2 linked regions of the Homo sapiens genome follow. The protein of the gene in region 2 interacts with the protein of the main gene of each other region in a biochemical or structural test. Each region holds a gene or a part of one and is shown on either strand. Other genes may lie near its edges.

What was found.
Region 1: the proteins of NUB1 (region 2) and NEDD8 form a complex in vitro, tested with the Homo sapiens proteins (4 studies listed by BioGRID).

The regions. Positions count from the first base shown.
Region 1 is NC_000014.9:24,216,209-24,219,535, forward strand, and holds the end of NEDD8 (ubiquitin-like protein NEDD8), read right to left. Parts: intron 2,224-3,327; coding exon 2,176-2,223; intron 2,008-2,175; coding exon 1,925-2,007; intron 1,016-1,924; coding exon 919-1,015; 3' UTR 649-918; downstream 1-648. Other genes in the region: NEDD8-MDP1 protein, read right to left, coding at 1,925-2,007, 2,176-2,223. UniProt on the Homo sapiens protein: Ubiquitin-like protein which plays an important role in cell cycle control and embryogenesis via its conjugation to a limited number of cellular proteins, such as cullins or p53/TP53.
Region 2 is NC_000007.14:151,348,253-151,352,073, reverse strand, and holds part of NUB1 (NEDD8 ultimate buster 1), read right to left. Parts: intron 3,002-3,821; coding exon 2,834-3,001; intron 651-2,833; coding exon 592-650; intron 108-591; exon of another isoform or gene 1-107. UniProt on the Homo sapiens protein: Specific down-regulator of the NEDD8 conjugation system. Recruits NEDD8, UBD, and their conjugates to the proteasome for degradation. Isoform 1 promotes the degradation of NEDD8 more efficiently than isoform 2.

The sequences.
Region 1 (3,327 bases), on a different chromosome or scaffold from region 2:
TGGCCACGGGCATCCTCCCTACTTCTCCACTCCACCCAGCCTTGCCCGATTCTATTATACTAAGAAGCCAGGGAAGAAGGAAAGCCTTTTCTTCTAGCACCTGCCTCTTCTTGAGACCCAAGTGATACATCACAGCTTGTCACTCAATCTTTCTGCATTATCAACCTCCTGACAGTGTAGAACCCAAAGTCCTCAGTAATATTCCAGCCATAGAGTACAGTGTCAGCCAAACCCTTGAAGGCGTTCTCCAACCAGGCCTAAATGTCCAGTACAGCCACAGTCAAGAGAGAATTCACTCTCCGAAGGTTTCACCATCCATGTCAGCACTACACTGGTAGATGTATAACAACCAGTTTGTGGGGAGGAACTGATCTGTAGTGTTTGCTAGTTTCTGTAAATAATCCTACCATGGCCAATTTCAAGCTACCAACATGAAGTCACTTAATAGAGTTGGAAAAAGGTGCCAATAATTGGCTCTCATTAGCCACTAGGAACTGGTTCCAACACACCACTAAGTAGGTTTTCCTAGAGTCTGATAATCCCCGTAAGAGCACCATTCCTTCCACTGTCCGATTCCTTCAGCCTGCTATAACTGAGTGAGCATTAGGTCCATTTTTATTTCAGTCAACTTGTGCAACAGAAGAAAGATTCCAGGAGGCCAGGAAATATTTTATTGACAACCAGGGACACAGTCATAAGAGAGGGAAGCACACAGGACTGCAAACTAACACCCAGTAGCCAGCAAGGGCCCTCTGGGCCAGGAATACTGAATCCTGGGATCCTCACAGTCTCCCACCAGTAGACATACATTACTGGGCATCCAGGGGAGGGGGCAGTGGCTATGGTGTCCCAGAGAGTGAGAGGATATATGATGCCTCATTATGAGCGACAGGGTAAAGAGGTAAAATGGAGGGTCCATCACTGCCTAAGACCACCTCCTCCTCTCAGAGCCAACACCAGGTGAAGGACTGAACCACCTAAAATCTTGTAATCAGCTGCTGTCTTCTCATCATTCCTGCAGGAAAAGGAAGCCAGAAAAAAAAGAAAAAGAAGACTTAGGAGTTTTTTGTTGTTGTTGTTGTTGTTGTTGTTGTTGTTTTTGACAGAGTCTCGCTCTGTCATCTAGGCTGGAGTACAGTGGCACGATCTCAGCTCACTGCAACTTCCACCTCCTGGGTTCAAGCAATTCTCCTGCTTCAGCCTCCTGAGTAGCTGGGATTACAAGCGCCCACCACCACGCCCAGCTAATTTTTGTATTTTTAGTAAAGATGGGGTTTCACCATGTTGGCCAGGCTGGTCTCGAACTCCTGACCTCAGGTGATCCACCCCCTTCAGCCTCCCAAAGTGCTGGGATTACAGGCGTGAGCCACTGCGCCCGGCCAGAACAGGAGTTCTTGAGTTTCCTGGATCTCTTTGGGGGTCTGTGAACTTGAATGAGAAAAAAAATCCCATCTTTATTTTTACTAACCCCCAACTGAAATTTAACATTTCTTCTAACTTTAAACATAGCCCAAAAACCACAGTAGTATTAGCAATATAGGTAACTTGTTAACAATAGCAATTAACTATTTTCTATCATGATCATTTATAGGTATCTTGAAAATATTTCAAAATTATGGTCATATTAGACCTACCATTAGATCTTATGCATTAATAAAAAAGTACATATATTACTATATCACAAATTTGTTTTAGTATTTTAATAACTATTTCAATATAATTAGTTTTCCTTTAATTCTATATATTTTGTTTTATGCCTGAAAAAATCTTATTCTGAGAAGGGGCTTAGAGGCTTCACCAGATTGCCAAAGAGTCTTAGGCACCAAAAACAAGAGGCACCCCTGATCCACCTCAGTACGTGCCCCCTCTCCTCTTCTCATCTTCACATAAGATCGCCATGCTGTCATTCTCACTCCAAACTCACATCTGCTTGCCACTGTAGATGAGCCTCTGCTGTTGTGGGGGGATTCCCTCTTTCTCCTCCACACGCTCCTTGATTCGCTCCACCTTTAGAGAGACAAGTAGTCAGGGGCTGCTGCTTAGGGGTAGGACCATGGAAACGGAAAGAACAAGGGCTATGCAGACAGCATGAGAGCAAAAGGACCAAGTTCATAAGCATATGCAAACAAATACACATGGCAAGAAGTACATGAAGAGGAGTTGGGCATGCATCACCTTGTCTGTAGGTTCAATGTCAATCTCAATCTCCTTTCCGGTCAGCGTCTGAAACAGGCAATGGTTTCATGAGTCCTTAAAGCCCAATGTACAATTTGTCTTCTAGGTAAAACATCCTATGTTGGTCTTTGGGATCTACTGCCTTCTAAAAGATGCATATTCTCAGCAGCACTGCTTTGGAGAATGAGAAGGCTTTGAACATACCTTCATTTATCAAATATTTTTAGGCTGTAAACAACTTTGATAGGGCAAGATTCTTTGAACCATCTGATCCTCTTAATTCCATGAGTCATCTTCCAACATCAGTCCCCCAAAATCAGTGAGAATATTGGCATTATTTTAGATGATACGGCAATGAAAGGATTTATTTATTTATTTTTGAGATGGAGTTTCGCTCTTGTTGACCAGGCTGGAGTGCAATGGCACAATCTCGGCTCACTGCAACTTCTGCCTCCCAGGTTCAACCAATTCTCCTGCCTCAGCCTCCCACGTAGCTGGGATTACAGGCATGCGCTACCAGGCCTGGCTAATTTTGTATTTTTAGTAGAGACAGGATTTCTCCATGTTGATCAGGCTGGTCTCAAACTCCCAACCTCAGGTGATCCACCCGCCTCAGCCTCCCAAAGTGCTGGGATTACAGGGGTAAGCCACTGCACCCAGCCTGAAAGATATCTTAAAAAAAGTCAGAAGGACCTTGTTCTAAATATCAATGCTAGAAATTAATATTCAGATAATTTGAAGAATTCTCAAGGACACCAGAAATCATCTCAGCAGTTTTTTAAAAAATGCTAGAATTGGCTGGGCATGGTGGCTCACACCTGCAATCCCAACACCTTGGGAGACTGAGGCGGGAGGATCACTTGAGCCTAGGAGTTCCAGACCAGCCTGGACAACACAGCGAAACCCTGTCTCAACCAAAACAACAACAACAACAACAACAACAACAAAAATTAGCTGAGTACAGTGGTGCATGCCTGTAGTACCAGCTATTTGGGAGGCTGAGGTGGGAGGATCACTTGAGTCCAGAAATTAGAGGCAGCAGCAGTAAGCCACGATTGTGCCACTGTACTCCAGCCTGGGCAACACCCTCGCAAAAAAAAAAAAAAAAAAAAAAAAAAGAAAGTAAAAGAAAAAAGAGAAAAGAAGACAAGA
Region 2 (3,821 bases):
GAAATGAGAAAAATCAGCTGAAGAAATACACCCGCTAGCTAGCCCTGGAGGTGCTCCAAACACCATTTTAAAACATACAAGGAGATGAAATAACCCACCAGATCTCAAAGTTAGGATTTCACTAGTATGTGGCAAACGTGTGTGTGTGTGTGTGTGTTTTACAGATGGGCCAACAGCCTGAAATCAGATAAAACACCGTGCTGAAGGTCATAGCAAGCTATTAATACATTAGGGAAAAAAAATAGTAATTCAAAACTAATGAGCTAGTGAGTACCAGGTGTCTCCTGCTTGTATCACTCACTCATTCACTCAAACATGCACCAAGTGCCTACCATATGATAGGCATGGAGTTCCCACCTGCTCGGAAGTTACACCAGGAAATAGTGCTTGCAAGTCTTGAGTCCTCACTTTGCCACTTACCTACCAGTGACAGCTCTAATAAGTCCTTCAACCTCAAAGCCTCAATTTTCTCTTTTATAAAATGAAGATAATACCTGCCCTACCTATCTTAAGAGGACGCTCACAGAGGATCAAATAAGCCAATGTAAAAAGGCCCAGAGCACCTAGGACACAGAGCACACAGATACTTACTTGGACCTCAGTTCTCTGCCAGTGATGTGCAATCGGGTCTCCAACAAGTTTTTCCTATCCTGTTAAAAATAAGACAAAGTAAAACGTACTTGAATTTAACCCATTTTGGAGAGATTACCCTGTGAAATCAGAAAAGCTGACGGCAGAGGATATAAACTGAGTTCACTGTTAAAAACTAAAATGCTGCCTGCCTAGAAGTCTACTGAACATAACCCAGCACAGGCTGACCCTGTGACCTGCACGTCCTCAAGGGGGCGGCAGCGTGGCACCACCAGGCAGGGCTGCTCAGAGGGGCCGTCTCACACAGCTGGACGTCTTTAACATTTCAGAACATTTCCACCATCCCTCAAAGAAACACCATGGCCTGCACCCCATTCCCTCCCCTTTGCCCCCCAGCCCCTGGCAACCACTAATCCATTTTCTGCTGCTACAGATTTGCCTATTCCGGACATTTCATATAAATGGGATAGTGCAGTACGTGGCCTTTTGTGTCTGGCTTCTTCCCTGAGCATCATGTTTTCAGGTGCACCCACGTTGTGGACGCATCAGCACTTCATTCCTTTGCATTGTGAACAGTTTTCCATCGTATGAATAGACCACATTTATCTATCCCTTCATCTGTTGATGGACATTTGGACTATTTCCATCTCTCAGCTACTGAATAGTGTTGCTATGACCATTCATGTATGAGGTTTTACATATTAATATATATGTGGGCGGCAAGCCACCCAGGTGCCAAGGCAAGAGACCGAGGGCACAAATTGTTCCAGTATAATAAAGAAAATATATAGAATAAGAATAGTTACACTAGAAATAGATTATAGATATGATTATATATGAATATCATTATTAGTTTGTAGTATTACTCTTTATTTCAATATTACAATAATCTTTGTTCTACAATTATAACCTAGGAAAAACCAGGCCACACAGAGATAGGAGCTGAAGGGACACAGTGAGAAGTGACCAGAAGACAAGTGTGAGCCCTCTGTTATGCCCGAACAGGGCCACTAGAGGGCTCCCTCGTCTAGCGGTAACTCCAGTGCCCGGAAAGGCCCTCGTTACTTAGCAGACCTTGGTCTAGCGGTAGCGCCAGTGCCTGGGAAGGCACCTGTTACTTAGCAGACTGGGAAAGGGAGCCTCTCCCTGGGGTAGTTAGAGAAGACTCTGCTCCACCACCTCTTGTGGAAGGCCTGACATTAGTCAGGCCCGCCCACAGCCATCCAGAGGCCTAAACGTCTCCCTGTGACGCTGTGCTTCAGTGGTCCCGCTCCTGTTTCACTTTCATGTTCCGCTCTGTACACCTGGCTCCGCCTTCTAGATAGCAGCAGCAGAAAGTGAAAGTATTAACGTCTTTGATCTTTCTGAGAAGAGCATAGAAGAAATAATGACGTAAGCTGTCCTCTCTCTCCGCCTCGTCTACCTACAAGGGAAAGGCCCCCTGTCCGGTGGACACATGACTCCTGTGACCTTATCAATCATTGGAGATGACTCACAGTCCTTACCCTGCCCCTTCTGCCTTGTATCCAATAAATAACAGCACAGCCAGGCATTCGGGGCCACTACCGGTTTCCGCGTCTAGGTGGTAGTGGTCCTCCGGGCCCAACTGTCTTTTCTTCTATCTCTTTGTCTTGTGTGTTTATTTCTACGATCTCTTGTCTCCGCACATGAGGAGAAAAACCACAGACCCAGTAGGGCTGGAGCCTATGCTCTTATTTCTTCTGAGAGTGCTGGCATCGATCAGTCCCAAGAGGCTCTGGGTGCCTTGCCACAGTGACATTTCTAGATGCAAACTACCTGGCCATGGCAATGAGAGGAGGTGACCCCACCCAGATCTCCTCGGCCCTGCTTGAGAGCACTCAGCGGACTGCCCTCTGACCTCTACTGGAACAGGAAAAGGATGAAGCCTTCTGTGCTGTGTCCTCCTGCACAGGCTTCTAGGAAACTTGGGAATCCTTTATTCCCCATTATTTCTCAACGTTCACACGCTAGAAAGGATCAGAATGTGACATACAGCTCTGTGGCATTTTAGAAGCCCAAGAGGGTCTCTAAAAGCCTACCTTGGGAATGTTCCAGTTTAAGAATTTGTAACATTGACTTTCAAGCTGATAAATTGTTCAATATGTAAAGTCACTTAAAAGAATTCTGACTTTGGATTGTAACTTTCCAAACAACAACAATTTATTTGACCTCATCACTAACTGGACATTAGTGCCTACTCAAATTTAGGGAAATTACTCACTTTTTTTAGTCTTGGTGGTAAAAACACCTCGATTGTAGCAATTCCCGTTGTTCTATAATTGTCATTTCCTGTTCCACGCTCAATTGCCTTGCAACGTATTTCTTCTATTACCTTTTCTACTTCATTTTCACAGCATTCTAGTCTGTCAGAGTACTGCTTAGCAAGGTCCTATCAAGAAAAATCAGAAAATGCAATACTGACTTAAAAAAAAAAAGGCAAAATATAGAAAAGGGCATGAAAGACTCTAAGGCCATCAACTCTGATGAGTGGAGGTCGCCCCGTTACACTGCAGTCCACACTGTGGTTTGACATCTTGAGAGGTGTGGAGTTTAGAGAGGCCAGGAAAAAGTGAAAACACTTATTTGAGACTGGGCGCGGTGGCTCATGCCTGTAATCCCAGCACTTTGGGAGGCCGAGGCAGGCGCATCACTTGAGGTGATGAGTTTGGGACCAGCCTGGCCAACATGGTGAAACCCCATAACTACTTAAATACAAAAATTAGCTGGGCATGGTGGCGTGTGCCTGTAGGCCCAGCTACTTGGGGGGCTGAGGCAGGAGAATCGCTTGAACCCAGGAGGCAGAGGCTGCAGTGAGCCAAGATTGTGCCACTGTACTCCACCCTGGGTGACAGAGCAAGACTCCGCCTCAAAAAAAAAAAAAAAAAAAAAAAAGCAAAAAGCAAAAAACAAAAACATTTATTTGATAAATGTTTTCTACCTACAAATAGTAAAATAATAATAATAATAGAGAATCTTCTAAGGAGAAGAAAAGGGTGGGCTATGACTTATGTGACTGTGATCTATTTAAAAAGTATAATGAACTGTTCAACTCCACTGGAAGGGAAAATGAAAAAAAAACCCAGAAAATATTCCAATTTTTCAAACTTGTGAGAACAAATCAAGTTGGACTTAAACAATTCTCTTAATGAAAATCTGTGAATCATGGGTACTAGTTGTAAAACTATTTGTAAGGGAGAGCTTTAGAATTG